Homo sapiens: one gene and its partners. Changing the gene in region 1 together with any one later gene gives a genetic interaction. Each region holds a gene or a part of one and is shown in the gene's direction. Other genes may lie near its edges.

Evidence for each region.
Region 2: changes in EP300 (region 1) and RABGEF1 together harm fitness less than expected from each alone (positive genetic interaction), as found in Homo sapiens cells (one large-scale study listed by BioGRID).
Region 3: changes in EP300 (region 1) and CTBP1 together harm fitness less than expected from each alone (positive genetic interaction), as found in Homo sapiens cells (one large-scale study listed by BioGRID).
Region 4: changes in EP300 (region 1) and SLC39A3 together harm fitness less than expected from each alone (positive genetic interaction), as found in Homo sapiens cells (one large-scale study listed by BioGRID).
Region 5: changes in EP300 (region 1) and MAN1B1 together harm fitness less than expected from each alone (positive genetic interaction), as found in Homo sapiens cells (one large-scale study listed by BioGRID).
Region 6: changes in EP300 (region 1) and RAB1A together harm fitness more than expected from each alone (negative genetic interaction), as found in Homo sapiens cells (one large-scale study listed by BioGRID).
Region 7: changes in EP300 (region 1) and TBL1XR1 together harm fitness less than expected from each alone (positive genetic interaction), as found in Homo sapiens cells (one large-scale study listed by BioGRID).

What each region holds. Positions count from the first base shown.
Region 1 is NC_000022.11:41,171,523-41,176,091, forward strand, and holds part of EP300 (histone acetyltransferase p300), read left to right. Parts: intron 1-976; coding exon 977-1,141; intron 1,142-2,100; coding exon 2,101-2,262; intron 2,263-4,569. UniProt on the Homo sapiens protein: Functions as a histone acetyltransferase and regulates transcription via chromatin remodeling. Acetylates all four core histones in nucleosomes. Histone acetylation gives an epigenetic tag for transcriptional activation.
Region 2 is NC_000007.14:66,795,534-66,800,102, forward strand, and holds part of RABGEF1 (rab5 GDP/GTP exchange factor), read left to right. Parts: coding exon 1-59; intron 60-1,084; exon of another isoform or gene 1,085-1,200; intron 1,201-1,242; coding exon of another isoform or gene 1,243-1,359; intron 1,360-1,840; coding exon 1,841-1,973; intron 1,974-3,789; coding exon 3,790-3,881; intron 3,882-4,569. UniProt on the Homo sapiens protein: Rab effector protein acting as linker between gamma-adaptin, RAB4A or RAB5A. Involved in endocytic membrane fusion and membrane trafficking of recycling endosomes. Stimulates nucleotide exchange on RAB5A. Can act as a ubiquitin ligase.
Region 3 is NC_000004.12:1,224,618-1,229,186, reverse strand, and holds part of CTBP1 (C-terminal-binding protein 1), read left to right. Parts: intron 1-843; coding exon 844-988; intron 989-3,620; coding exon 3,621-3,827; intron 3,828-4,569. UniProt on the Homo sapiens protein: Corepressor targeting diverse transcription regulators such as GLIS2 or BCL6. Has dehydrogenase activity. Involved in controlling the equilibrium between tubular and stacked structures in the Golgi complex.
Region 4 is NC_000019.10:2,734,165-2,737,730, reverse strand, and holds part of SLC39A3 (zinc transporter ZIP3), read left to right. Parts: intron 1-351; 5' UTR 352-473; coding exon 474-683; coding exon of another isoform or gene 684-791; exon of another isoform or gene 792-3,205; intron 3,206-3,566. UniProt on the Homo sapiens protein: Transporter for the divalent cation Zn(2+). Mediates the influx of Zn(2+) into cells from extracellular space. Controls Zn(2+) accumulation into dentate gyrus granule cells in the hippocampus.
Region 5 is NC_000009.12:137,103,086-137,107,003, forward strand, and holds part of MAN1B1 (endoplasmic reticulum mannosyl-oligosaccharide 1,2-alpha-mannosidase), read left to right. Parts: coding exon of another isoform or gene 1-1,280; exon of another isoform or gene 1,281-1,891; intron 1,892-3,039; coding exon 3,040-3,230; intron 3,231-3,603; coding exon 3,604-3,724; intron 3,725-3,918. Other genes in the region: uncharacterized protein LOC124902313, read left to right, coding at 1-1,125. UniProt on the Homo sapiens protein: Involved in glycoprotein quality control targeting of misfolded glycoproteins for degradation.
Region 6 is NC_000002.12:65,119,413-65,123,981, reverse strand, and holds part of RAB1A (ras-related protein Rab-1A), read left to right. Parts: intron 1-4,569. UniProt on the Homo sapiens protein: The small GTPases Rab are key regulators of intracellular membrane trafficking, from the formation of transport vesicles to their fusion with membranes.
Region 7 is NC_000003.12:177,189,918-177,194,486, reverse strand, and holds part of TBL1XR1 (F-box-like/WD repeat-containing protein TBL1XR1), read left to right. Parts: intron 1-4,569. UniProt on the Homo sapiens protein: F-box-like protein involved in the recruitment of the ubiquitin/19S proteasome complex to nuclear receptor-regulated transcription units. Plays an essential role in transcription activation mediated by nuclear receptors.

The sequences.
Region 1 (4,569 bases):
GACAGGATGTCACCATGTTGCCCAGGCTGGTCTCAAACTCCTGAGCTCAAGTGATCTGCCCACCTCAGCCTCCCAAAGTGCTAGGATTATAGGCATGAGCCACATCACCCAGCCAAAAATATATTCTCCCTTTTTTTTTTTTGGACGGAGTTTCAGGCTGGAGTGCAATGGTGCAGTCTCCTGGGTTCAAGTGATGGTCCTACCTCAGCCTCCCGAGTAGCTGGGATTACAGGCATGCACCACCAAGCCAGGCTAATTTTTTCTATTTTTAGTAGAGACGGGGTTTCTCCACATTGGTCAGGCTGGTCTCGAACTCCTGACCTCAGGTGATCCACCTGCCTCGGCCTCCCAAAGTGCTGGGATTACAGGTGTGAGTCACTGCACCTGGCCAAAAATATATTCTTAATTAACAGTATTATGTTATTCATAAATATAGGTTGTCTCATGATACAGACTTGTCTTCCTCAATTTAGTAGTTCAACTAAATAAAGAAGTTTTCCTAAGCAGCCCAGCAAATCATTCTGCAGCAGATACTATTTCCAGTATTTGTAGTTTTGGTCATTTTGAACAAAGCTGTCAGTAAAAGCTGCTGAAATTCCAAGGATGGGTGTGAGGAGGGCATGCTTCATACCACATATTCTGTGATAAGGAGTGGTAGGGGCCATGGCATGCATGATGGTGCTACCACCCTGACGTTGATCCTGGCAGGATAATTGCCACTTGGTTATATAAAGGCAGATAAGCTCCCTGTTTTTGTGGGTAGAAGAAATAGAAAACCGGAAATATTGACTTTAGGCCAGGCCTTTTCACTATTTATTTTTCTAAATACTCCCTGGCTTACGGCTTAGGTATAAAGTCTCTGCCAGCTTTCAAGACATTTTAAGCTTTCATGTTTCTTGTCAGCCATGATTATTCTGTATAATCAATGCTTTAAAAGAACATAGAAATTCCTATATGTACATGCATGTTTTCACAGGATATTTTTAAACAAGCTACTGAAGATAGATTAACAAGTGCAAAGGAATTGCCTTATTTCGAGGGTGATTTCTGGCCCAATGTTCTGGAAGAAAGCATTAAGGAACTGGAACAGGAGGAAGAAGAGAGAAAACGAGAGGAAAACACCAGCAATGAAAGCACAGATGTAAGGGCATTGAGTTTCCTTTGAAACTTCTATCATGATTCTAATATTTAATCCAGAAGTGCACTTAAACTTTCAATTGGGTTTTAAAGCTTTCAGGTGTAAAAGAGCTCTTTAAGTTGGACAAGAAATATTGGCTTAGAGAGGTTATTAGGGTTCTGTTTCAGTGGTATTAAACTTTTAAAGCATCAGAGCCCCTTTTAAAATGGCATCTCAGACTTTGAGTAATGTGAAATGATAAAAGAAACTGAAGGAAATCCTGAAAAACTGATAGAAGATTACTTATCTGAAGGACTAGGTTATGAATATTATAGGCCTTGTGGGTCACATATCTCTGGCATATTTTCTGTCTTTTAAAAACACACTCTTTTTAAATGTAAAAAACCATTCTTAGCTATACAAAATAGGCCTGAGCCAGAATTTAAGTTACTAAGCCTGGCTTAGTAACCTCACCAGTTATTTCCCCATAGCATATCTCGAATTACCTCCATTGAATTTAACTTAACAAAAGGCACCCTTAAATAGTCTGTTAACAAACTCTTACAGCCTTGTCATTTAGTATTTGTAGGCTCATAACATTTTAGAATATGAGTGGAAGGAAATAAAACCAAGGTCTTCTGGCTCCCCACTTTGATACACTCTTCACTACCCCAAAGTGCCACCCCTTCCTTGTTCCCTAGCCCCAATCTGGGATACATTCAATCAATCTACAGGGTCTGCACATTCTGTGGCCTCTTCTAGGCAAAAAGCTAAAGGGCTGCCATTGCCTTAAAGATCACTGGGAGAAAATTAGGTCAAATAACAACTTTAAGGAGAAAGAATAAGTGAAGAGAACAGCTAGTAAAATAAGTTACAGGCATAAGATTATGATATCTAGTTTCAAAGAAGGGAGATATTCTGTGCTATTCCCAAATTACTTAACAAAAACCTTATTTTCTTGTCTCCTTTGTGCTACTCTGCAGGTGACCAAGGGAGACAGCAAAAATGCTAAAAAGAAGAATAATAAGAAAACCAGCAAAAATAAGAGCAGCCTGAGTAGGGGCAACAAGAAGAAACCCGGGATGCCCAATGTATCTAACGACCTCTCACAGAAACTATATGCCACCATGGAGAAGCATAAAGAGGTAAGATGCAGCCACCCAGAGTTGGGGAAAAACGGCAAGATTTCTGGCCAGGCATGGTGGCTCACACCTGTAATCCCAGCACTTTGGGAGGCCAAGGCGGGTGGATCACCTGAGGTCAGGAGTTCAAGACCAGCCTGACCAACACGGTGAAACCTTGCTCTACTAAAAATACAAAATTAGCTGGGCATGGTGGCACATGCCTGTAATCCCAGCTACTCAGGAGGCTGAGGCAGGAGAATTGCTTGAACCTGAGAAGCGGAGATTGCAGTGAGCCGAGGTCACTCCATTGCACTCCAGCCTGGGCAACAAGAGCGAAACTCCACCTCAGAAAAAGAAATAAGAAATGAATAAAAACACTGACTGTTCGCTGGGCGTGGTGGCTCATGCCTGTAATCCCAGCACTTTGGAGGTTGAGGCAGGCGGATCACTTGAGGTCAGGAGTTGGAGACCAGCCTGGCCAACATGGCGAACCGAAACCCCGTCTCTACTAAAAATACAAAAATTAGCCTGGCGTGGTGGCACACACCTGTAATCCTTGGGATGCTGGGGTGGGAGGATCACTTGAACCTGGGAGGCAGAGGTTGCAGTGCACTTACAGCCTGGGTGACAGAACGAGACTCTGTTTCAAAAAATAAAAAGATTTAACCTTTCTGAAAGTGAATTAGTAAATAGAATTGGAGAAAAGTTAAACTTCCACATATGGACTTACAACCCCCTTCTCAAAACTTTTTGAGTTATTTCATCATTTACATTGTTTAGTTGTTCTTGCAGTCATTTGGGAAAATAACTGGGTAAGGTTTTTTTTTTCTCTCTTTAATATCATATAATTGATAACGAAAGCCAGGAGAATTGAAGAGTAATTCCTCTCAGGGTTTGTCCAATGGTAGTAATCTCGATTGTTCAGTCAGACTCCTCATTTTACTATCTCGGTTCTCAGACATATAATCAAGTTCTTATAGGAAGTGGTAATTAAGTTGAGAGGGAAATGAAGGCTTGATTTCAGGTTGTAATTCCGTACCTAAAAATTGGTTAAACAGTCTCTTTGGGAGAGAAATAGTTAACAAAATCTTTTTTAGAGAGGAATTTGTTATAATGATGTTATCATGGTGAACACCTATATACATAGGTGTTCAAAGTATCTTTTCCCCCACTGCTCCCCCCATCACCACCCCTTTTTTGTTAGCCTAGAATAATGGGCTACGATGTAATAATGGTAATAACCATTATCTCAGCCATGCTAGTGAAATGGAAGGATTCCTGAGTTCTAATACGTTAGGTAATGATTATTAACAATTAATAGTTACTAGCTATTTCAAGCAGTAAGTAATGCCACAGAATCCTAGGCAGTTGGGAAAAGCCCTTAGAATATATTGTAATAGGTTTGACTTAAATTGTGGACACATTCCATGGCTGTTTAAATTTAGGTTGTAAATCCAAGTATTGGCCTGGTTGTAGGGTGACAGAAGCAGCGAACATTGCTGGCCAGAGACTGTGAGTGTGGCTGCCAGTGTGCACAGATGTTGAATAATCTGTTATCAGTACAGCAGTTTCTCACAAGTTCCTAATTTCTTAAGGGGATGTTTTACATTTTATTACTTTAATAGGTGTTTATAGTTATATACTAATTAATGTCAAATACATATGTAATACCAGCTTTTTATACCTTTTACACTAATGGTTATGAGAATTGATGGTTGTTACAAGTTTTTTCAAACTTCAATGAACAAGAATTTTATTGCTTTGTCAACAAAGACTAAGATTTTTTATCCATTCCATTCCCTTCCAAACCTGTAGGAAAAGTTACACAGGAAAGTTGCATAGGGGACCTTCATGAGTCCAGGCCAGTTGTTTTTCATACTGTCTCCATATTTGGATTTGTCTGGTTTGTTGTAATTAGATTGAGGTTAAACCATGGATTGCATCTTAAAGTAGACTGCCTTGAGGCAAAATGTCCACTGTGCATGGTGCTATACCTCACCCAGACCATTGTTACTCTGAAGGAGTTACTGAATGAAGGAGAAAAAAATCACAGGATGTGCATTTCAGTTCTATTTATAGTCAGTCTCAAGAGACCAAAGAGGTAAAGCAGGAAAAGGAACAGGAGGCGTATGGTGGTGAAACTAACTCAGCATTCGCCAGTCTCATTGGTGCTCAGCCTGCTGTACCTGCTCACACCTGTAATCCCAGCACTCTGGGAGGCTGAGGCAGGCAGATCACTTGAGCTTAGGAGTTTGAGACCAGCCTGGGCAACATGGCGAAGCCTCGTCTCTACAAAAAATGCAGAAATTAGCCAGGTGTGGTGGTGTG
Region 2 (4,569 bases), on another chromosome or scaffold:
AGAGTGTGCTCAGGATTTCTACCACAATGTGGCCGAAAGGATGCAAACTCGTGGGAAAGGTAACACTGTTAGCCATTGAGAGATTGCGGGTATTGCACAGGGATGACTGCTCAGTCTCTTAGCAATTTCTTTCTTTCTCTGATGGTCTGGCTGGTTTGTAGACTTCATCCTGTAACCTCATGGACATTCTGGGAACTGGTCTTATACTTAGCAGTGCCTTTGAACTGTACCATGCGTATCTTTCCAGGAGCAATTGGATAATTTATTGAGTAACATTTAATAACTCCATTGGGGCAGGGCTGGAGCTGACGAAAACATCTTAGGGCCTGGCTCAGTAGCTCATGCCTGTAATCCCAGCACTTTGGGAGGCTAAAGCAGGCGGATCACGTTAGGCCAGGAGTTCGAGACCAGCCTGGCCAACATGGTGAAACCCCGCCTCTATTAAAAATACAAAAAGTAGCCGGGTGTTGTGGTGCACCTCTTATCCCAGCTACTCGGGAGGCCGAGGCACAAGAATTGCTTGAACCCGGAAGGCGGAGGTTGCAGTGAGCTGAGACTGTGCCACTGCACTCCAGCCTGGGCAACAGATCGAGACTCTGTCTTCAAAAAAGAGAGAGAGAAAGAGAAAAACTTATTGGAAGGCTTTGCTAAATGAATTTTCCATCTTGGAATCACCATTTTGGTGAGTTATTGTATTAATAGTTTAAAAAAAAAAGAGCTTCAAGTTTTTAGGGATTCTTTATGGATTCAACCTTCACTGATACTAGACTTTAGGATATACTTAGCACATGTGTGTGTCAGAGAAATCTCCATTTGTATACCTCAGAGAGCTCTACGATGTTATGGTAAACCTCAGAAAAATGAAAGGATAAGTTTCATCAGCATTCATCAGTCTTGGGAGTTGCAAATGCCTTTGTAATGTAGGACAGGGAGTGACCTTGCTGAAGTCTCCCCATTTGGCAGGGTGTACACTGTTAGGTCCTGTCAGACAACTTCAGTTAGAACTGAGGTTGCTGTGGAAGGCAGCCCAACAGTTGGAAGAAGATTTTTTTGTTTGTTTGTTTGTTTGTTTTTGTCGAGACAGAATATCACTCTGTCGTCCAAGCTGGAGTACAGTGGTGTGACCTCGGCTCACTGCAACTCTGCCTCCCAGGTTCAAGTGATTCTCCTGTCTCAGCCCCCGAGTGGCTGGGATTACAGGTGCGTGCCACCACACCCAGCTAATTTTTGTATTTTTATTAGAGAGGAGATTTCACCATGTTGGCCAGGCTGGTCTTGAACTCCTGACCTCAGGCGATCCACCTGCCTCAGCCTCCCAAAGTGCTGGGAATACAGGAGTAGAGCCACCGCACCCAGCTGGTAAGTTTTTTTTTTAAGCGTATTTTTAAATATAACATTCTTATACTTTTGTTCTGAGTGTGTTTAATTTATTTCTAGTAAATTAGTTTTTTGCTGTGTAGACAGTGCTATGAAAATATACTCTTGGCCGGGCATTCTGGCTCACACCTATAAACCTAGTACTTTGGGAGGCTGAGGCAGGTAGATTGCTTGAGCCCAGGAGTTCGAGACCAGCCTGGGCAACATGGTAAAACCCCATCTCCACAGAAAAAACCTACAAAAATTATTCAGGCATGGTGGCGTGTGCCTGTGATCCCAGCTACTTGGGAGGCTGAGGTAGGAGAATGGCTCGAGCCCAGGAGGTGGAGGTTTCAGTGAGCCAAGGTCATGCTGCTGCACTCCAACCTGGGCGACAGAGCCAGACTCTTTGTTTGCAAAAAAAAAAAAAAAGAGAGAGAAAAAATATATATATCTTGATCTTTTCTCTGTCTGGTTATTTCAGTGCCTCCAGAAAGAGTCGAGAAGATAATGGATCAGATTGAAAAGTACATCATGACTCGTCTCTATAAATATGTATTCTGTCCAGAAACTACTGATGATGAGAAGAAAGATCTTGCCATTCAAAAGAGAATCAGGTAGTTGCTTATTTTGTTTTGCTTTGTAGTTACTACCTTCTAATGGAAGAACACACTGGGGGGAAAATAATGCACCTGTGTTTCAAACCTTAAGGGAAAGCAATAGCTCATGTTCCTGCTTCCTTAGAGTGGAAGCAGCTCTGTTGTGTAAGAAAGACGAGGAATGTGGTGACCTCACCTATCCATCTCCCTCAAGGCAGCTTTTGGTAAGAGTTGTGTTTGGTGTTTGAGATTGTTTTCAATCCCTGAAATCTCCAAGGAATAGGGGGACTGTGTTCTTGGTCCATTACCATCTCCTCAAGTGGGAAGCTGTGAATATCGGTATCAAGGCAGGGGATGTCGGCTGGGCCCGGTGGCTCATACCTGTAATCCCAGCACTTTGGGAGGATCACTTGAGGCCAGGAGTTCAAGAGTAGCCCAGGCAACGTGGTAAAACCCCGTCTCTACTAAAAATACAAAAATTAGCCAGGCATGGTGGCGCACGCCTGTGATCCCAGCTACTTGGGAGGCTAAGGCACGAGAATGGCTTGAATCCAGGTGGCAGAGGTTGCAGTGAGCTGAGATCATGCTACCACACTCCAGCCTGGGCAACAGAGCAAGACTCCTTCTCAAAAAAATAACAAGTCAGTAGATGTCCTCTTTCCTCATTCCTCCCAGGGGTGTGCATTTTTCAGCATTCCCTAGTCACATCTTTCACTGGCATTGGATTGATGACATTTCCCACAGCACCCAGTCTTCCAGGCTCACTGGGGTGAGCCCCAGCACTGTGTACTCCAGTTGCGGTGGACACTGAGGAAGAGACCACCCAAGTGTGGGAACAGGGCCAAGGCTGAGCTGATGAGGTGTTTTAAGGGGAGAAGGGACTCGGAGTCCCAGGTTCCAGACAAGGGGCTGGTACTTGCTAGATCTGTATTGGAAGTTTCATAGCTGAAGTGAGGAGTTGATACTGGGCAGGCTGAAGATGTGGAGCCCAAGGTCAGGAGCCAGAAGTAACTAGAGGGGCCCTGGACCAAGATGCAGAACAGAAGCAGTAACCAAGCAAGAGGGCAGGCCTGCTGCAGGGTAGTTGGAGTGCAGTTAGGGTGGGACCAGGAAACACACAGTGATTCAGGCATGGTGGTCCTGCCCGTGGCCTCCTATACAAGCTCCAGTGTGCCTCAGAAGTTGAGGGTTGAGGCCAGGTGTGGTGGCTCGCACCTGTAATCCCAGCACTTTGGGAGGCCAAGGCAGGCAGATCACCTGAGGTCAGGAGTTTGAGACCAGCCTGGCCAGCAGGGTGAAACCCTGTCTCGTAAAAGTACAGAAATTAGCTGGGCATGGAGGTGGGCGCCTGTAGTCCCGGCTGCTTGGGAGCCTGAGGCAGGAGAATTGCTTGAACCCAGGATGCAGAGGCTGCAGTGAGCCAAGATTGGCACTCCAGCCTGGGCAAGAGTGAGACTCCATCTCAAAAAAGAAAGAAGTTGAGGACTGAGTGTAAAAGGACATTAACGCAGTAGGCAGCGAGGACAGGCAGCAGCCAATTCTCAAATGGTCACTTTCAGATACTGAGTGCATTTCAGTCTTGGTAGCACTGCGTAATGTCATTTCAGTCAGCAAGATGGCCTTCCATTCTTGTGATAAATGCAGAAGTCTCATTTTAGGATCCTAGCTGCTTCATCACGTCATTAGAGCTCGTAGTACTTGCAGGGGTGATGTGTGTGGGCCTGGGATTGAGTGGTCAGTGATGCCTCAGGCTTTCCCTAAACTGAAGGAGGTGACAAGACAAATGGCCACAGTTTATCCTTGGAGCTCTTGTTTACTGTCTCTCTCTCTTTAGAGCCCTGCGCTGGGTTACGCCTCAGATGCTGTGTGTCCCTGTTAATGAAGACATCCCAGAAGTGTCTGATATGGTGGTGAAGGCGATCACAGGTCAGTGAAACCAAGAGCCTTTTTATTGGGATGTTTTCCCCTTAAAGTTAACATTTTACTGTAATATTCATCTATACATTTGTAAAATGCAGATTGTCGAAGGTACATTGGAATGTAGTAAAAGTGATTTGTAAGATTGTTTTATGAATTTGATGGCATTCAGAAGAGCAGGTTCTCTTTTACCCCTTTATTTTCAGGGATTATGGTCTCGTTTCTTGGGCATTAAACTAAACTAAGGTCAAATGCAGATAGAATAAATTTTTTTTCTTTTTTTTGTACTTCTTTTTTTATTTAGTTTTTATTCAGCTGACTGTTCCATGATAGAATAAATTTCTTAGGATTCAGTTGCATTTATATATTCAAAATAATTTTGGATAGAGGAAGGGAACTGGTAAGGCAAGGTAATCCCCACGCTGGAGTAACGTAGTAAAATGATGCCTCTGACTGGTTGTTAGAGAAGCGCTATGAGTTATTTTTCTGGTTTGATCAGGAAATAAATGAAGTTCCCCAAATTGATGTGACACTGCCGTTCTAGACAGGTCCAGCCTCCTAATAAGGTTTGTTTCTCATTCATGGGAATGAACCAGCAAGAGTGCAACACAAACGTTTAAATTACAAAAAAAAATCTTAATGGAGAGATGGTCATCTTTGGCCAGTGTCTCCTTTATTAGAAAGAGGCCTTGGAAAG
Region 3 (4,569 bases), on another chromosome or scaffold:
CCACACTGCCCCTGCCCTCCCTGGGCTGGGGGTAACTGGGAGCCCTTGGCAGGGTGGGGTTGGCCGTGACCACAGCGATGCCATGTACTGGCTGAGTGGAGGCGCCAGGGTTGGGCTGCTGTGCTGTGTGCCAGGTCTTTGTTCGCGGGAGCTGTTCCGGTCTAAGAGTTGTCATGGACACTGAAATTAAAAACGTGACTGTTGTGAACACTGCTCAGACCCAAGCCTCGCCAGCCAGGGGCAGCATTTCTGGGCAGGTTCTTGGGCGACACGGGGGCAGTGCATGCTCCTGTGGATGTATCCTTACGGCTGGGTGGCGTCTGCCTGCCTCCGCCGACGTGCTTGTGTGCCGCGGGGACTTACCACTTTCTACCTGCATCCCCGGGCCTGCAGGTCTCAGGTTCCCTGGCCACCCCACCCAGCTGCACCTGCTCAGTGTCCTTCCTGGGTGTGGCCGCACCCCCCCTCCTGTGTCCTCGCCAGGCGGGACCCCGTTTCTTCCACAAGGCTGAGCAGAGTCTCGGTGGGGCGCACGCTCAAAAGGAGACATCTCAGCCACCACAGTGGGGAGCGGGCAACTCTGACCAGTGCCGGCCTGCAGCCTACATGCGGCTGAGGAGGCTGCGGTGGGAATTGCTGGGACTCAGGACGCCTGGGCAGAGGTTGAGGGGCCGCGCGTGGCGGGGAAGCCTTCATGTAGCCTCTCCCAGTGTCCGGGCTGGTGCTTGGGGAACAAGCCTGAGGGCCACAGGCTAATTTCCCAGCCGGGGCAGCCCCACCCCCGAAGGCCAAGCCCGAGGGTCTTCAGGTTCCGGGCTGAGCCTGTGTGCTTTCTCGCTGCAGGTCCTGAACGAGGCTGTGGGGGCCCTGATGTACCACACCATCACTCTCACCAGGGAGGACCTGGAGAAGTTCAAAGCCCTCCGCATCATCGTCCGGATTGGCAGTGGTTTTGACAACATCGACATCAAGTCGGCCGGGGATTTAGGTAGGCCGGCTCCGAGTTCTCTCCTGTGCCCATTCATGCAAGCTCCGTCCCGTCTTGCTTCGTCCATGGAGGCTTCACTGCCACACTGAGGACCCCGTTGCACATTGCCTGGTGTGGCTGGCGGTGGTTCGTGGTCCCGTCTGGGGCCGGCATGAGGTTGCAGCCATTCAGTTCCTCACAGAGCCTCATCTCAGGGCACTTCCTCTCTTTTGGGCAGCAGGAAATCCAGCTGTGGCTTCACACAGGTCTGCATGCATGTCTGGCTGGTGCCCCTTGCTTGGGTACTGGGACCCTGGGGGTGAGGGCAGGGCCGTCAGTGTATGGCTGTAATAGGGCTCATAGGTCTCTGTCCCGAGACACAGCGGGAACAGCAGCGTGTTGCAACCCAGTACGTGTGCACTCAGCACACAGAACACACACGTCTGCACCTGTGCACTCAGCACATGGATCACGCACACTCAGCACACAGAACACACACGGAACACGCACATCTGCATCCGTGCATGTGCACTCAGCACATGGAACACGCACACTCATCTGCACCCATGCACATGCAGTTAGCACACGGATCTTGCACACTCATCTGCACCCGTGCACATGCACTCAGCACACGGATCACGCACACTCAGCACACAGAACACGCACATCTGCAGCCATGCATGTGCACTCAGCACATGGAACACGCACACTCATCTGCACCCGTGCACATGCACTCAGCACACGGATCCTGCACACTCATCTGCACCCGTGCACACGCACTCAGCACACGGATCACGCACACTCAGCACACAGAACACACACAGAACACGCACATCTGCAGCCGTGCATGTGCACTCAGCACATGGAACACACACACTCATCTGCACCCGTGCACATGCACTCAGCACACGGATCACGCACACTCATCTGCACCTGTGCACACGCACTCAGCACATGGATCACATGCTCATCACACAGAACACATGCACCTCTGCTTGTGCACTCAGCATATGGAACACTCATGGAACACGCACGTCTGCACCCGTGCACCTACACGCACATGGAACATGCACATGTGTCTGCATCCATGTACAGACACTCATTAGAACAAACTTGGGGCGGTGCTTGGCCGTCCTGCTTGGAGCGCACTTTCTGTTTTCTGCCAGGCTCGGTCTGTTTTTTCTCCTCCTCTCGATGCTGGTAACAGGCGAGGTTGTACCCTGCCCTTGCCCACAGTTGGCCAGCGCCTCACGGTTTTGCTTCCCTTTTCCTAGGATACAGTTTATGGCATTGCAAAGTTGGAACCGTCTGTGTTCCTGCGGGGGACGCAGGTGGTGTCGGAAGCCATGCCTCCATCTGGGGGTCTCCTGCACTGGCTTCAGCTGCTTCCGCCGGCGCCCATGGGCCAAACCTGTGTGCCAGCCTCCTCCCGCCTTTGTCTCTGTGGTGGCGTCCCAGGAAGGGCCGGCTGCGGTGTCGGGTGCAGGCCTGGGTGTGTGGTGTCGGGTGCATGCCTGGTGCTTTTTGAGGGGTCCCTGCTGTTTACCATCTCTGTTACCCGTGGAGTTTCCCAGGCCTGGGCTCTGTTCTTCAGCCAGGGATGGTCTGGGGCACCCCTGGGATCTGGCCCACCCTCAGGAGGTCTTTGTTCCAATCTCGTGTGGCGCCTGGCTTGGCTCTCCCTCAGTCTCCCTTGTTTAACATTTTTACGTCCAAGTGAGTTGTGTCTAGGGGCTATGCAGCCCCTGCCTGCGCCGCCCCACATCAGGCCCTCTCCCGGCCCCCGGGACCCCTTGCGGAACCACACGGTCCTGTCCAGCTTCCGGGCCTATGAATGCAGCCCTGTCCTGGCCTCCTGCCCCCTCCTCCTCCCCAGGGAGACGGATGGCCAGTCGGACACAGGAATGCAATCATCCGGATGGGGTGGGAAGTGCCGTGCAGGGGCGGCCCTGGCCAGGGACAAGCCAGGGATGAGGGTAAATAGGCTCAGGGAGGGGCACTGGCTGGGGAAGGGCCTGTCTCTGGGGACAAGGCCGGGAGCGGGGAGTAGGGGTCACACATGGGCGTGCCTGGCCACTCGGGAGAAATGGGATGGACTTGCTTTCCAGGAATGGCTCCAGCTTCAGTGTTACCGACTGCAGGGGTGGGGCATGGAGGGCGGAAGGGGCTTCGGGGCCCGGCTGGGCCTGGGGGAGGCCTGAGGACATGTGCGGATGTCCACGTAGGGGTGTGCAGGCGGGGCCGGCACCCAGATTCTGACCTGGCCACAGCCTCCCAGCAGGGTACCCCCGAGAGGAATCGGGGTGGCGAGGTGACGCGGGGAGACACGTGCTTGTCTCTTCCTGGGCTGCCAGCGCTGAGTCGGGAGGGGTCAGGGCAGCGTCTCACACCCCAGCCCTACCACACACCGAGCAGTTGCCGTGTGTGTGCTGCCACGTGAACCTAAAGTGGAGGTGGGGCTCCTGGAGTTGCTCTGTTGCGCCCGACCTGTGAGCAACGTGTTCATCTCGTGGCCTCCCGGGGTGGCCTTGGGGACACGGCCTTTGGCTTCTTCCTTGGGAAGCTTCAAACCCGCTCCAGTCACGGCGGCCCCGGTGTCCTCCCGGAGGCTGGGCCCGGCCCGGGGGTGACCGCCGTGTCCTTGTCCCCACAGGCATTGCCGTCTGCAACGTGCCCGCGGCGTCTGTGGAGGAGACGGCCGACTCGACGCTGTGCCACATCCTGAACCTGTACCGGCGGGCCACCTGGCTGCACCAGGCGCTGCGGGAGGGCACACGAGTCCAGAGCGTCGAGCAGATCCGCGAGGTGGCGTCCGGCGCTGCCAGGATCCGCGGGGAGACCTTGGGCATCATCGGACTTGGTGCGTCGGCCGCAGCTCCACGCCTGTGTCCCTCCCTGTGTCTGGCGCTGCCGCTCTTCAGCTGTGCCCAGGAGGAGAGGCCCGGGGCGGGGTGGGGCTGCTGCAGGTGTCGGTCCCAACCCAGGACAGGACTGAGTGCGCACAGGCACCAGGGCCCGGGAGTCCCAGGCGTGTGCCCTACGTGCACGGACGTCACAGCACACGTGGGTCTCACACAGGCACACACAGATAACGTACACGGATGCCACAGCACACACAGCCTCACACAGACATCACAGCACGTGGGTCTCATGGGCACATGCAGATAACACACACGGACGTCACAGCACTCACATGGGCTTCATGGGCACATAGATAACACACGGATGTCACAGTACACAGCCTCACACAGAAATCAGAGCACACATGTGGGCCTCACACAGACATCATGGCACACACAGACATCACACACCGATGTCACAGTACACATACTGGCCTGCACGGATGTCATAGATGCCACAGCACACATGTGGGCCTCACAGACATCACAGTATACATGACCTCACGGGCGCACACAGAAATCACACATGGACATCACAGCACAGACGTGGACCTCACGGGCACACACAGATAACACAGATGTCACAGCACACAGCCTCACACAGATATCACAACACACCCATGGGTCTCACACTGGCCTGCACGGACGTCACAGCACACAGGGCCTGCACAGATGTCACACACAACACCACAGCACACATAC
Region 4 (3,566 bases), on another chromosome or scaffold:
TCCGAGTTCCAAAACTGAAGAACTGGCCAGGTGCAGTGGCTCACGCCTATAATCCTAGCACTTTGGGAGGCCGAGGCAGGCGGATCACGAGGTCAGGAGTTCGAGACCAGCCTGGCCAACATGATGAAACCTCGTCTCTACTACAAATACAAAAAAAATTAGCTGGGAGTGGTGGCGCGTGTCTGTAATCCCAGCTACTAGGCAGGAGAATTGCTTGAATCCAGGAAGCGGAGGTTGCAGTGAGCGGAGATTGCACCATTGCACTCCAGCCTGGCAACAGAGCGAGACTCTGTCTAAAAAAAAAAAAAGAAAAAAGAAAGAAAGCTAATGCAGTGCCCCTGATGTTCACAGTTGCTGGACTGAGACATGAGCCTCCAACTGTGTGGTTGGGCTCGGTAGCACATCGTGGGACTTGGGTGTGCGCCCACAGATGGTTTGGCCCTGCAGTGACCAGAGCAGCCCAAGCCGCCACCATGGTGAAATTGCTAGTGGCCAAAATCCTGTGCATGGTGGGCGTGTTCTTCTTCATGCTGCTCGGCTCCCTGCTCCCCGTGAAGATCATCGAGACAGATTTTGAGAAGGCCCATCGCTCGAAAAAGATCCTCTCTCTCTGCAACACCTTTGGAGGAGGGGTGTTTCTGGCCACGTGCTTCAACGCTCTGCTGCCCGCTGTGAGGGAAAAGGTAAGGGCTCCCTGGGCACTAGCAGCAGCCCTTGGCACCTTATGGCCAAGGGACTCTGATGCATTTTCAACACTGATGCCAAGTTCAGTGAAGGCCTTGATGCTGTAAGGGTGACGGAAAGTAGGAAGTGAATTTGCTGTGTGATTGTGAACTGGTTACTTTCTGTCTCTGTGCTCTACCGGCCAAACAAGGGGTTTGGACCAGACCTGGGATTCCCAACAGGTGGACTTGTCGGTTGTCACCTGATAATCAGACCAGACTACCCACCTAGGTAGGGCACACTCTGTCCTGAAGCTGGAAAGCATGGCCTCTCTTCGGTTCCTATATCAGTCAGCTACTGTTGCGTAACAAATTATAGCAAACTGAGCACCTTAGGACTACAGACGTTTATCATCTCACAGTTTCTGTGAGTCAGGGGTCTGGGCACTGCTTCAGGAGCTCACAAGGCAGCAGTCACAGTGTCTCCTGGGCTGTGGTCTCATCTCAACGTTCAACCGGGGATGGGTCGGCCTCTAAGCTCATGTGGTTGTAAGCCAGGTTCAGTTCCTCATTGGTTGTCAGACCGAAGGTGTCTGTTTGTCAGTGTCTGTTGGCTGGGGCAGCCCTCAGAGCCTGGCCACGTGGACCTCCCCAGCATGATCAGTTCCTTCATCAGCAAATGGAGAAGATGGCCATGACTCTGTGTAAGACAGAGGGCACAGTCCCATGTCATGCAGAGGTGACAGGGTATCCCTTCCCCTCTGCCCCAGTGTCCTGCTGGTTAGAAGCAAGTTCAAGTCCTTCCCATACTCAAGTGGCCAGGACCTCACAGGGTATGGCTGTCAAGAGGCAGGGGCTTCTGGGGCCATCTTGGAGTCTGTCCACCCCAACTCCTGACAGCATCATCCTCTGCTGACCTGTTCCTTGAGCTCCCCCATATCAGCAGCCCAGAGTGTGGGTCCCCTGTCAGGCCACAGTGTGACCAGCCCTGGCCATGCTTGCTGGGTGACCCTGGGTGAGTGGCTTCCTCTCTCTGGGCCAGTGCCAGATGTGACATTGAATTTGTGTTGGTTACATACTTGGTGGAGATATGAGGACCCCCTGTTCTTCCTCCCAACGAAAGCATGGAAGCCCTAAGCTTATCCCCCAACCCCTGGCCCTGCTTTTCCTCGTGCCTAGTGTCCAGAAAGGAGGAGAAGGGCTGTTGTCTGGGATTAAATCATCTGAGCCTGTTAGTGTGGCAGAGTAGAGTTCCAGGGTGGCTCCCTGAGCTTCCAGCCCCTGCTCCGCACGCCCCATGCTCTTCCCTCCCCTCGAGTGTGGGTAGGGCTGGGACTGCCGTGCGTGTCACTCCTGCCATTATGTCAGAATCCCAGCAGAGGGGATGTTGCAGCTGTGATGACCGCCCCAGATCGGTTAGCGCTGAGTTCATCAAAAGGGAGGGGGTGGGCCTGGCCTAATCAGGTGAGCCACTCACCCTCCTGCTGGCCTTGGAGAAGCAAAAAGCCAGGGTGTGCCAGGAGAAGGGCATGAAGCGAGGACCCGAGGGCAGCCTCTCGGTGCCAAGAGCCATCCCCGCCAACAGCCAGCCAGGACACGGGGCCTCAGTCCACAGCCACCAGGAGGTGGACTCTTCCGACCTCCAGTGAGCTTGGAAGAGGACCCTGGGTGTCAGTGAGATCTCAGCCCTGATGACACCCTGCGAGACCTGGAGCGTAGGGCCCAGCTAGCCCGCACCTGGATTTCCACCGTTCAGAGCCGAGACACCGCATTCCTGCTGTTCCGCGTGGCTGAGTCTGCATTCGTTCGTTACGCGGTGTGTGAAGACTGACATCTGCACTGCGAGGATGGAGATCTTGGTCATCTCTGACATCTCCTGCATCGCAGAGGCCACTGCCAGCCCCCCTTTTCCCCCATGGTCATGGTGTCACCCCCGTCACCCTCTGACTGCAGGCCTGGGCGACTGCGGGGAGCTTGCTCTTCCCTCCCCCTCATCACAGTGGCCTTCTCATGGCACCCAAACCTTTCCCGCCGTTCTCCTGTCCTCGGGCTGGTCAGGCGGATGAGGTCCCTACTCCCGAGCCCCCAGCCTCACCCACTGCAGGGCCAGGCTCTCAGTCACCCCTGGAAAATGGTGCCTGGTTCACAGCTCCCGTGCATCTGCCTCATCTCTCCTGATCAACGTCTGTCTCTTGGGAGTAGCTAGAGTTCCTCATGAGCTTGTCCTCAAGCGAGGCATGCATGAGGCCTCCAGCCGGTGGTCAGTGAGGGAGTTAAGTGGCTTCTCCGTGGAAACACAGCCTTCTGCTGCAGCAGAGGCTCACCCAGCGTGAACTGCCCCCAGGGAACACTGGGCGATGCCTGGGGACATTGTGGTTGTCACGATGGGGGGTGCTCCTGGCCTGGAGTGGGTGGAGGCCAGAGACACTGCTCAGCAGCACCCTGCAGTGCCCAGGACGGCCCCGTCCCAGAGAACAATCCAGCCCCGAATGTCAGCACCTTCCCCCTACCCGAGTTGTGAAAATAAAAAATGTTTCCAGACATTGCCAGGTGTCCACACGGGCAGAATCGCCCTGGTTGAGAACCACTGTGTGCGCGTGCTTGTGTGTGCACCTGCGTGTGCGCGTGTGTGTGCGTGCGTGTGTGCACATATGCGTGTGTGTGTGTGTGTGTGCACGTGCGCAGGTTGTAATGAAGTCTCCGCTGGGAAGGAAGCAGGGAAGCAGGCATTGTTGAGTGTCGATTGTGTTGTGATTTTCCTCCACTTTGGTCTCGAGGTCTCTCTGGAGGGTGGCTGTGAACTCTGGCCCTGCCGTGACGAGGCTCCAGGGAGCTGTTGTGGGCGTTTACAGCCTGCCTTTCATGAGACATTTCATCCTGGCGCATAGCCTAATGCCTGCGTGT
Region 5 (3,918 bases), on another chromosome or scaffold:
GGCGTGCAGGTCGGTGGTGTTACACACATGCTGTTGCAGGCGTGCAGGTCGGTGGTGTTACATTCACACTGTTGCAGGCGTGCAGGTCGGTGGTACACACATTCACACTGTTGCAGGCGTGCAGGTCGGTGGTGTTACACACATTCATGGTGTTGCAGGCGTGCAGGTCGGTGTTACACACATGCTGTTGCAGGCGTGCAGGTCGGTGGTACATTCATGCTGTTGCAGGCGTGCAGGTCGGTGGTGTTACACATTTTCACGCTGTTGCAGACGTGCAGGTCAGTGGTGTTACATTCATGCTGTTGCAGGCGTGCAGGTCGGTGGTGTTACATTCACGCTGGTGCAGGCATGCAGGTCGGTGGTGTTACACACAACGCTGTTGCAGGCGTGCAGGTCAGTGGTACACACATTCACGCTATTGCAGGCGTGCAGGCCGGTGGTGTTACATTCACGCTGTTGCAGGCGTGCAGGTTGGTGTTACACACATTCACACTTGCAGGCGTGCGGGTCGGTGGTGTTACACACATTCATGCTGTTGCAGGCGTGCAGGTCGGTGTTACACACATTCACACTTGCAGGCGTGCAGGTCGGTGGTGTTACACACATTCACACTGTTGCAGGCGTGCAGGTCCGTGGTGTTACACACATGCTGTTGCAGGCGTGCAGGTCGGTGGTGTTACATTCACACTGTTGCAGGTGTGCAGGTTGGTGTTACACACATTCACACTGTTGCAGGCTTGCAGGTCGGTGGTGTTACACACATTCACACTTGCAGGCGTGCAGGTCAGTGGTGTTACACACATTCATGCTGTTGCAGGCATGCAGGTCGGTAGTGTTACACATTCATGCTGTTGCAGGCGTGCAGGTCGGTGGTGTTGCACATTCATGCTGTTGCAGGCATGCAGGTCGGTGGTGTTACATTCACGCTGTTGCAGGAGTACAGGTCAGTGGTGTTACACACATTCATGCTGTTGTGCAGCTATCACTTCCATCTCCAGAGCCCTTTTCATCTTAAAACTGAAGCTCTCCCATCACACAGTGACCCTTCATGTCCCTCCCCAGTCCCTGAAAAACACTGTTCAGGTTTTTCTTCCTGGACCTCATTGTGTGGAGTTCCTCGTGTGAGTGCAGTCACACACGATTTGTCCTTTTTTTGTTTTCGTTTGTTGAGACAGAGTCTCATTCTGTCACTCAGGCTGGAGTGCAGTGGCGTGATCTCAGCTCACTGCAACCTCCACTCCCAGGTTCAAGTGATTCTCCTGCCTCAGCCTCCCAAGTAGCTGGGATTACAGGCGCCTGCCACCACGCCCAGCTAATTTTTGTGTTTTTATTAGAGACAGGGTTTCACCAAGTTGGCCAGACTGGTCTCAAACTCCTGACCTCGTGATCCACCCGCCTGGGCCTCCCACAGTGCTGGGATGACAGGCGTGAGCTACCACACCCGGCTGATTTATCCTTTTATTTGGGCTCCTTTCACTCAGCGTCTTTAAGCTTCATACGCGAAAGATGCTTCAGAGATTCCTTTTTCAGGCTGAATATCTGCTGCGTGGCTAGGCCACTTTTTGTTTAATCCTCTCTCCTCTGGTGGACACCAGGACTGTGCTGTTTTGGTTGCTGTAAGCGCGGGTGCACACGCCTGCCTGAGGCTGTGTTTTGGCCGTTGTGAGTGTGGGTGCACACACCTGCCTGAGGCTCTGCTTTGTTGTGAGTGCGGGTGCACACACCTGCCTGAGGCTGTGTTTTGGGTGTTGTGAGTGTGGGTGCACACACCTGCCTGAGGCTGTGTTTTGGGTGTTGTGAGTGTGGGTGCACACACCTGCCTGAGGCTGTGGCGCGATCTCGGCTCACTGCAACCTCCACCTCCCGGGTTCAAGCGATTCTCCTGCCTCAGCCTCCCGAGTAGCTGGGACCACACCCACCACCACACCCCGTTATTTTTTTGTATTTTTAGTAGAGATGGGGTTTTGCCATGTTGGCCAGGATGGTCTGGAACTGACCTCAGGTGATCCACCCACTGGCCTCCCAAAGTGCTGGGATTACAGGTGTGAGCCACTGTGCCCGGCCTCTTTTTACTTTGTTAATGGTGTATTTTGATAGATAACAGATTGTCATTTTCATGAAGCACAGCTGGTCAGTTTATTGTTGCTCATGTATTTGGCCTCATGTTCGAGTCCCTGTTTTTAATCATGAGCTGGACACAGCCCTCTTTAGAGCAACTGTGACCACTTGTGGTGAGAAGTGCAGCCCACACCATCCACGTGAGGCTCCCACACGCCATCCACGTGAGGCTCCCATGCAGACATTTAGAAGGCGTTTTCACTGCAGCTCAGAAAATGGCCCCAGGCCCCCATGGGCACCCCCATGTCACCAGGGCCTCTGGTTGCTGCCGGTACACAGGGATAGGCAGCCAGGCCTCGAAGGTGCTGGGCATGGGTTTGGGTGTCTGCGTTGGGTAGAGACCCGGAGCGCCCTTGCTGGGCGTGCCCTAACATCCCGGTACCCTGTGCCCCTCTGTGGGCCAGGACGCCTGGTGCTGCCAGCTGGGCGTAAGCCCTGAGGAGCTGAGGGTGGCTGTGACTTGGAGGATGAGTAGGAGCTCACCAGGAGGGCGTGGAGCCGAGGCGTTTAATATCATCAGGAGCAACACTGGGCTCAGAAGGCAGGCACACTTGCCGTCCCTCCAGAGCCATGGCTGACGGCCAGGCCTGGTGGGCTCTCGTGAGGACAGTGCCTGTGGTTGTCAGATGCTGTCCCTTCGAGTAAGGGATGAGAGCCATCCTGAAGATGGGTCAGCTCTGTGGTGACCACCCGTTGGGAGCAGTGACATTCAGGTGCGTTGCACTGGTGGCTGTGTGGCTGTGTGGTACGGCCACCAGGAGCCATGTGGGCAAGGACAGCTGTGGGCTGGGCACAGAGCTCTCTCTGCTGGGAGTCAGTCGGTGCTGGGGCGAGGGGAGGCAGAGCTCACAGAGCCCCTCTACAGCTCACCCTGCAGCTCGGCCCTGGCCAGTAAACCCACCATCCCCCTTTCTGCCGCAGGAGGCAGTGGAGAAGGTGACACAGCACATCCACGGCCTGTCTGGGAAGAAGGATGGGCTGGTGCCCATGTTCATCAATACCCACAGTGGCCTCTTCACCCACCTGGGCGTATTCACGCTGGGCGCCAGGGCCGACAGCTACTATGAGTACCTGCTGAAGCAGTGGATCCAGGGCGGGAAGCAGGAGACACAGTGAGGCCCGGCCCGCTGCCCCCAGCTCCCGCGGCTCCCCCGTTCCCGCAGCCCCCCACTCCTGCTGCCCCCAGCTCCCACGGCCCCCGCTCCTGCTGCCCCCCGCCACACTGTGTGTCAGGAAACCGCAGCCGTGCCAGGCCTGGCCCAGGCATTTATGTGGAGGGCGTATTCATTCACCTCTCACCGTGGCCTCTGGGGGGGTGAGGGGGGCATCTTCACTGAGGGCCATGGGCTGTGCAGGGTGGCACCTTCTGTCCGGCAAGGGCCAGGCCTGCTGTACTTGTGTGGGCCCAGGATGTGCCTGTCCCTGGTGCCCCACGGGAGCCGATGCACCGTCCTGGTAGAGTGAGATGACTGCTGGTGTCCACAGGCTGCTGGAAGACTACGTGGAAGCCATCGAGGGTGTCAGAACGCACCTGCTGCGGCACTCCGAGCCCAGTAAGCTCACCTTTGTGGGGGAGCTTGCCCACGGCCGCTTCAGTGCCAAGATGGTGAGTGTGTCTGCGGGGCCTTCCGGCCGCCGCCCCTTTTACCTTGGCTTCCAAGGTGCCTGAGTCATGATGTCAAAAAGAACGAAATCCTGGCCATGGCGCCCACGTGGAGGCCCTGGGTGGACCGTGGCTGCCTGGCCAGGCCTGTCTTGGCAACAGGGCAGTAAGGCCTTGTGTGGCACCTGGGGTGGGCA
Region 6 (4,569 bases), on another chromosome or scaffold:
CCCCTTTAATCAAATTAAGTTAAAATGAGGGATGTTAGACAGTTTTTAACCATCAAATATTTTAGTTTAGTTTTTTTTTTTAACGTTGTCTTAAAGATGGAAGTGCTTCAAAATCAAATCTTCCTTGCCAGTTCTCTACTTGGCTTCTTTTTTTTTCTTTTTGAGACAGAGTCTCACTTTGTCACTGGAGTGCGTTGGCGTGATCTCGGCTCACTGCAACCTCCGCCTTCCAGGTTTAAGTGATTCTTCCACCTCAGCCTCTCAAGTAGCTGGGAGTACAGGTGTGTGCCACCACACCCGGCTAATTTTTGTAGTTTTAGTAGAGACAGGGTTTCACTATGTTGGCCAGGCTGGCCTCAAACTCCTGACCTCGTGATCCACCCACCTCAGCCAAATTGCTGGGATTACTTGTGTGAGCCACGCGCCTGGCTTCTACTTGGCTTTTAAAGGGAATTTTGCTTTCTGAGTAATTTTATTTCTCAGGTATCTTGGTCTTTTTAATTCTGGAAGCAATCTTAATAATTTATGTATGTGCCCTGTAATCCCAGCACTTTGGGAGGCCGAGGTGGGCGAATCACGAGGTCAGGAGATCGAGACCATCCTGGCTAACACGGTGAAACCCCATCTACTAAAAATACAAAAAATTAGCTGGGCGTGGTGGCAGGCGCCTGTAGTCCCAGCTACTTGGGAGGCTGAGGCAGGAGAATCATTTGAACCCGGGAGGCAGAGCTTGCAGTGAGCCGAGATCGCGCCACTGCACTCCAGCCTGGGCGACAGAGCGAGACTCTGTCTCAAAAAAAAAAAAAAAAAAATTTACGTATGTGCTAACATCCTGCTATATTCACCTTCCATAGCAATCTGTTGGCTGTGTGTTGTGTATGTGTGTGTTTTCTCTTCTGGGTAGTTTTGACTATACCTATGTGATGGTTTCACTATTTGTAGTTTGAATAGTTCAGTTTTATTTTGGATAGTAAAGAAGAGCTTGCTTTTTTTTTTTTTTTTTTTTTGTCTGAGACGGAGTCTTGTTCTGTTGCCCAGGCTGGAGTGCAGTGGTGTGATCTGGGCTCACTGCAAGCTCTGCCTCCTGGGCTCACACCATTCTCCTGCCTCAGCCTCCCGATTAGCTGGGACTACAGGTGCCCGCCGCCAGGCCCAGCTAAATTTTTGCATTTTTTAGTAGAGATGGGGTTTCACTGTGTTAGCCAGGATGATCTCCTGACCTTGTGATCCACCTGCCTCTGCCTCTCAAAGTGCTGAGATTACAGGCGTGAGCCACCACGTCTGGCCAGAATAGCTTTCTTTTGTGGCAAGCTATATACTTTCCTAATATATGAACATGTTTAGGGTAAAATAAGATGCTTCTTAACGTTTTGAGATTTAAAAAAAATTTGCTAATCAACTTTGAGTGTCTGTTTTTTGAGATATAGGGTCTTACTCTGTCACGCAGGCTACAGTGCAGTGATGCAATCATAACTTACTATAGCCTCCAACTCCTAGCCGGGTTTCAGTGATCCTCCCACCTCAGCCTCCTGAGTAGCTGAGAATACAAGCGCGTGCCACCACACCTGGCTAATTTTTTTTTTTTTTTTGTATTTTTTGTAGGGATGGGATTTCAATATGTTGCCCCAGGCTAGTCTCAAATTCCTGGTCTCGAGATCCACCTGCCTCAGCTTCCCAAAGTGCTGGGATTATAGGCATGAGCCCCACGCTTGGCTGAGTGTCTTAAGATGAAGAAAAACTGAAAATGGGTGTAGTGTGCCAGTGCATGAGGTATTTTAAATGTGTAGCTTACCAGCTTTTTTTTTTTTTTTTTTTTTTTTTTTTTTGAGATAGAGTCTTGCTCTGTCACCCAGGCTGGAGTGCAGTGGCACAATCTTGGCTTACTGCAACGTCTGTCTCCCGGGTTCCAGCATTTCTTCTGCCTCAGCCTCCTGAGTAACTGGGACTACAGGCGTCCACCACCACGGCCAGCTAATTTTTATATTAGTAGAGATGGGGTTTCACCATGTTGGCCAGGCTGGTCTCCAACTCCTGACCTCAGGTGATCCGCCTGCCTTGGTCTCCCAAAGTGCTAGGATTACAGGCGTGAGCCACTACGTTTGGCTGCTTATCAGCTTTTTACCACTTTGTCGCCACTACATTTTGGAATTTTCCTTTGAGAATTAGGCAAAATGCCCAGACTCCCCCCCGGCCCCCGCTTTAGAGGGAGAGGGGAGCAATTAGACTATTCCTTTGTTTCCCTATAGAAGGTGGGGCTGAGATTACTGCTTTGATATCTGGAATGTAATTTAGGGAAGAAAATTTAGGTCTTGGCCTTTCTTTGGAACCACCCTGGGAGTGTTGCAGATTATTAATAGGGTAATGGTGGAATGATATTCAGGGGAAAAATGGTCCTGAGGAGCCAGAGAACTAAGTGTTAGTTTGTTGGCTGACTGAAACATGTGAGAGATAGGGTACAGAAGAAGTAGGAAATAGTTTTCCTTGGTACTTCTGTGACAGGTTGGCTCAATTGGCTGGAACACCCTACACTGCTTTATTAAATCCAAGGTTGTGATAGGTTCCAGTTAAGTTTACTGTGTTCTATGCTTGTAGATTTCCTAATTAGGACAAGTAGTGTTAAATATGCATGCCTTTATTCACAAGAGGGACCATTCTTTTGGAAACATCACTTTTTAATAATACTAGGTGCTATTTAGCACTTACTCGGTGCCAGCCACGTGGCTATGGTTTTTTTTTTTTTTTTTTTCGAGACATGATCTAGCTCTGTCTCCCAGGCTGGAGTGGTGGTAGCACAGTCATGGCTCACTGCAGTCTCAACCTCCTGTACTCTAGTGATCCTCCTGTCTCAGCCTCCTGAGTAACTGGCACCATGCCTGGCTAATTTTTTTTTAAGAGATGAGATGTCGCTATGTTGCCTATGCTGGTCTCGAACACCTGGGCTCAAGTGATCCTCCTGCCTGAGCCTCTCAAAGTGTTGGGATTACAGGTGTGACCCACCTCACTTGGCCATCTATGGTCTTTACATAGGGCATTTTGTGCAGTCTGCGTCTCAAACTAGTGATCTTCAACAGTGAAACTCAGTGAATTATGTAATTCATGTTTTCCAAGAACAATGATGGATTTAATTTCTCTGAATGTATTTCCTTTGTATAATAATAGTACTTAAGTGGAATTACTCTTTGTCCTTTCTACTCTCCTTATAGATATTTTCTGGTATCTTGATTTGGGACTGTTACATTTAACCCATTTATGGTCGTGTAGCCATACTCACGTTACATTTGATGCATCTGCTCCCTTTGTGTCTATATACTCATATAACATTTTGCATAAAGTTATAGGCAGTTCACACCAAGGCTGTTCATGAACCTCAGATTAAGAATACTTGATTTAGGAGATTGAAAACAGAAAAGAGAATGTTAACTATCATTATCAATATTAAAATGTGAAAATCTGAGAGTGACAAAGCTTAGCTTTAAATCTGGTATCCCAAACTCATTTGAGTTTTTTTTTTTTTTTTTTTTTTTTTGAGACAAGGTGTCGCTTTGTCCCCCAGGCTGGAGTGTAGTGGTGTGATCTTGGCTCACTGCAACCTCCACCTCCCAGGTTCAAGTGATTCTCCTGCCTCAGCCTCTGAAGTTGCTGGGATTACAGGCTGCGCCACCACGCCCAGCTAATTTTTTGTATTTATAGTAAAGACGGAGTTTCACCTTATTGGCCAGGCTGGTCTCAAACTCCTGATCTTGTGATCCTCCCGCCTCGGCCTCCCAAAGTGCTGGGATTACAGGTGTGAGCCACTGTTCCCGGCCTAATTTGAGTTTTAAAATGTGGAGTTTAAGATGTTAGTCTTAAAGTGGGTTAGATGAAATTTATAAAAATAGTCAAATAGCTAAATTTATAAAAGGCCATTTGAAACAATTTTGTGAAATATATAATGTGGATAATTATGTAGTGCTTTATGTGTAGATTGGTGGTTAGCATCTGCCTGATGAAGAGCAGTTGGATTTCTTACTTACTAAAGCTAGTGAAATCTGAACTCCAAATTAGGCATCTTCACCAGGCTTTTTTGAGCCGAGCTAACTTACTCTCTTTTTTATTTTTATTTTTTAATTAATTAATTTTTTTTTTTTTTTTTTTTTTTTTGTAGAGACAGGATCTCCCCATGTTACCCAGGCTTGTCTCTGGCTCCTTGGCTCAAGCAGTCCTCCTACCTTAGCCTCCCAAAGTGCTAGGATTACAGCTGTGAGCCACTGCGCCAGGCTGAGCTTATTCTCTACTAACACAAGTGTTCTAATTTAATTTAAGCAGTGAATCACACTTTTCTTTGTATTTGGTCAGGTTCTGGGTGCTAGTTTATATATGATTTGATTCATTCTGATAGGGTTTTTTTGTTTTTTTTTGTTTTTGTTTTTTTGTTTTTTTTTGAGACAGAGTCTAGCTCTGTCGCCCAGGCTGGAGTGTGGTGGCTCGATTTCGGGTCATTGCAACTTCTGCCTCCCACCCAGGCTGGAGTGCAGTGGCTCGATTTCGGGTCATTGCAACCTCTGCCTCCCAGGTTCAAGCGATTCTCCT
Region 7 (4,569 bases), on another chromosome or scaffold:
GTTGGGTTTGTTCAATTTTTGGTGTCATTTATATAAAAAGAATAAAGAAGAATGTGAATGGTAGGAAGTCAGGGGAGAGGCATGGCAGAAACATTGGTATTCACTAGAACTTGTATTTTTCTAGTGCATGTGAATTGGACTCATTTCACAAATAACATTTACAGTATAAGTCACTGAAATGCAAAAAAGGAAAGCAGCTAACACGAGACATTTATACTTTATGCTCAGACATTCTGGTAGTAGAGGAGGGCTAGGACCCTAGAGCTGTGTAGTAAAGAATTGTTGAGTATCGTTCAGTTTAGGTACCACGAAGGTGGTATCTCCTGCTCTGCCACCAATAGAAACTTGAAGTTAAAAAGAAAAGACTCTGAGAGCGCTGATGCTGGAGAGATTTGGCTGTTTACCCCTCTGGGATTGGATTCGGTAAGAGTGCAATTAATTGCCCTGTAACCATAGAGCCAGAGGAGAGGGACTAGGTGCTCCGGGCTATGCTCTAGGAGGTGTGAGGTGCTTTCTATGCTGTTTATACCCTAGGCTAATCCTATGAGGTAGATAGTGTTGGGCTTTTTTTGTGGATGATGAAACAGAGATGCAAAGAAGTTAATTCCCTTGTTCAAGGCCACAAAATTATTAAATGAACACTAGGATTCAAACCTGGGTCTGTCTTAGATGACTGAATCTGCGGAATTTTCCCAGCTGTTTTGTTAGTCTTGATCCGTGTAGATCATCCTTCCAAAAACTTGTGTTTCTAATCAAGTTTATGATCTATAGTTGAGCGTCTGTACTAAATGGGTCGAGTGATTACATGGGTAAATGAAATTGATAGAACTCATATCATTGTGCTGAATTCCCTAGCACCATTTAATAAGATGCAGTCTTGCTGGGTGCAGTGGCTCACGCCTGTAATCCAAGCACTTTGGAAGGCCAAGGCGGGCGGATCACGAGGTCAAGAGATTGAGACCATCTTGGCCAGCATGGTGAATCCCCGTCTCTACTAAAAATACACAAATTAGCTGGGCGTGGTGGCGGGTACCTGTAGTCCCAGCTACTCGGGAGGCTGAGGTGGGAGAATCGCTTGAACCCAGGAGGTGGAGGTTGCAGTGAGCCAAGATCGCGCCATTGCACTCCAGCCTGGGCGATAGAGGGAGACACCCTCTCAAAAACAAACAAACAAAAAATTTGTGTAAGAAAAATCATTGAAGTCTTTGTGTTGTAGCATAGTGGTTAAAGTGAGTTCAAACTCAGGCTCTATCCTTTACTAGCTGTGATGTTGGGGTAGTAGCTCCTCATACGTTTTATTTATTTTTTAAAATTTTATTTTATTTTATTTTTTTGAGACGGAGTTTCGCTCTGTTGCCCAGGCTGGAGTGCAGTGGCGCGATCTCGGCTCACTGCAACCTCCGCCTCCTGGGTTCAAGTGATTCTCCTGCCTCAGCCTCCCAAGTAGCTGGGATTACAGGTGCTTGCCACCACTCCCGGCTAATTTTTGTGTTTTTAGTAGAGATGGGGTTTCAGCATGTTGGCCAGGCTGGTCTCGAACTCCTGACCTCAGGTAACGTGCCTGCCTCGGCCTCCCAAAGGGCTGGGATTATAGGCATGAGCCACATTGCGCCTGGCCCTAATGTGTTTGTTTCTTCATCAGTGTAAGGGGACAGTCAACTTTCATAGAGTTAAGAAGATCCAGTTAGTGTGTGAGAGGTACTTAGAACAATGGTTGACATTCTAAGCATCCTGTAAGTGTAAGTTGCTCCTGATAGGTTTGATTTTTGAAGTTTGTTTCTTTGTATTACATTTTATTTGCTTGTTATTTATTTTAGTAGGGGCATAATGTCATAGGAAGGATTTGATAGCTCCATTTCCTAAGTAACCCATTTGAAGTAAACTTAGCTTGGTTTTTTTTACTCTTAAAAAGTTGTGGTTTAAGGCTTACATATACTATGAATAATTTACATGATTGGTGTAGGTACGGTGGTGGATCTTTTTTGCATGCCTTTGTTGCTATTCTGTCATCTGGGTTGGACTTCTTAAGCCTACTTGCACCATTTGAAACATTTTTCAACTTACTTTCTTTCTTTTTTTTTTTTTTTTGAGATAAAGTCTCACTTTGTTTGTTGCCCAGGTTGGAGTGCAGGTTGGAGTGCAATGGCGCGATCTCCTCTTACTGCAACCTCGCGCCTCCTGGGTTCAAGCGATTCTCCTGCCTCAGCCTCCTAGCTGGGATTATAGGCATGCGCCACCACGCCCAGCTAATTTTTGTATTTTTAGTAGAGACGGGGTTTCACCATGTGGTCTCCATCTCTTGACCTTGTGATCTGCCCGCTTTGGCCTCCCAAAGTGCTGGGATTACAGGCGTGAGCCACCGCGCCCAGCTTCAACTCTTTTTTTTTTTTTTTTGAGACAGAGTCTTGCTCTGTCACCCATGCTGGAGTGCAATGGTGCGATCTCGGCTCACTGCAACCTCTGCCTCCCGGGTTCAAGCGATTCCCCTACCTCAGCCTCCCAAGTAGCTGGGATTACAGGCGCCTGTCACTTGCCTGGCTAATTTCTTGTATCTTTAGTAGAGATGGGGTTTCACCATGTTGGTCAGGCTGGTCTCGAACTCCTGACCGCCCGTCTCGGCCTCCCAAAGTGCTGGGATTACAGGCATGAGCCACCGTGCCAGGCAAACTCTTTAAATACAAAGGGAACTCTTTCAAGGTTTGGGTCCAGCAGAACCTAGGGTCTGCCTTTTAGGCTGTAGTGATTACTTTGGGTAGGTGGTTTTATTTTATTTTTCCTGACCACTTTTTATCTGTGTATTCTTTTCCGTATTATCAGATGCTGTCTAGATAGTTGTCCTTAGAAGTTCAGTTCCTCTATGAGCCTTATCTTATGTTCACTTCCCATTTTTAACCATACTTAATTTAGCACTAGTGTTCACTTTGCTAATAGTCAAAAGTTCTATGTATCAGGACTATACAGGTGCTTTGACAAGTACTGTGACAGTCTGAGTGCTGATGCCTGAATTTAACAGTGAGAAAATTGAGGCTCAGGTAGTAGGGGACAGAGCAGGAATTTAGGCCCAGTTTGTGTGAATTCTAGGCCAGTGTTGTTACCTAGCAGTCTGTCTTCTCAATGAATGAATGGTTGTAGGTCTGGATTATTAAGTTTTTATTTGGTTGCCCTGAGCAACCTTTCTTATTCATTTTATCTTCTGTAACTACTGACAGTGTAATTTATTTAAAGTACTGGTTTCATCTTGTCAGTTCCCCTGCTGGAGAACCCATAATGGATTCTCTTTGCCAACTGGATTGAATTTGTATGCTTCAGTCTGGCTTTTAAGAAGGTTCCATTCTACCTATTCAGCTTTATTTCTCACTCTTAGTTGGGATTCTTGCCGGCCTCTCAAATACGGTAGTTTTTGCCATACTCACTACTTTGCTTTTGTGCATGCTGTTGTTCCCTTTGTCCTTCTTATAGCCTAGTTTCAGTCCCCCTTCTTCCATGAATCCTTTTCTGGCCATCCTGACTCAGGATATTTCTTCTCTGAGATTCCATTGCACTTAATGAAGATCACAAATCCCATAACTGTTTATTGTTTTGTTGCCCCAACTACGATGTTTCTTGAACGGATGGACCTTTTTCCTTCCAGCATTTGGCAGAGTTCTTAATACCATTTTCATGTTAAAATGGATTGTGAGGGCCTGTGTTAAAATGGGAGCAGTGACAGCCCTGTTCCACTGTAATGTGGCAGCATCTTCTTTTTGAGTTAGACCTTAAAGATTTAGGTGTGCTATAGTCACATTTAACTGTTCATTTAAATTTTAGTGCTGCCAGAGTTGCAAAGGAAGAAAAATTTGTTAGTTTCTTAGATGAAAATGGATGGTTTTGACTGGGTACGGTGGCCCACGCCTGTAATCTCTGCACTTTGGGAGGCCCAGGCAGGGGGATCACCTGAGGTCAGGAGTTTGAGACCAGCCTGGCTAACATGATAAAATGTTTAGCTCTACTAAAAATACAAAAAATTAGCTGGGAGTGGTGGCACACGCCTATAATCCTAGCTACTCAGGAGGCTGAGGCAGGAGAATAGCTTCAACCCGGGAGGCGGAGGCTGCAGTGAACTGAGATTGCGCCACTGCACTCCAGCCTGGTCAACAAGAGCATCAACTCCGTCACATACACAAAAAAAGAAAATGGATGGTTTTGCCCTTTTAATTCTGGAATAGTAGCCACAGTACTGGGGGAAAACCTAGTCTAGTTAGGAATTGTGTCACAGTAAGTTGACTTTATCTGGTTATATATGTGTCAGGTAGTTAGGTATAATGATGCTTAAGATTTTGGACTCTTTTTTTTTTTTTTTTTTTTTTTTTTTTTGAGATGGAGTTTCACTCTTGTTGCCCGGGCTGGAGTGCAATGGCACATGCTTGGCTCACTGAAACCTCCGTCTCCTGGGTTCAAGCGATTTTCCTGCTTCAGCCTCCCCAGTAGCTGGGATTACAGGTGTCCGCTTACACGCCCAGCTAGAACTTTATTTTCTTAATCTGTTAGGTTTTTTCTTCATTATTTCCTTAGTAGTGTACCTAAGTTAAG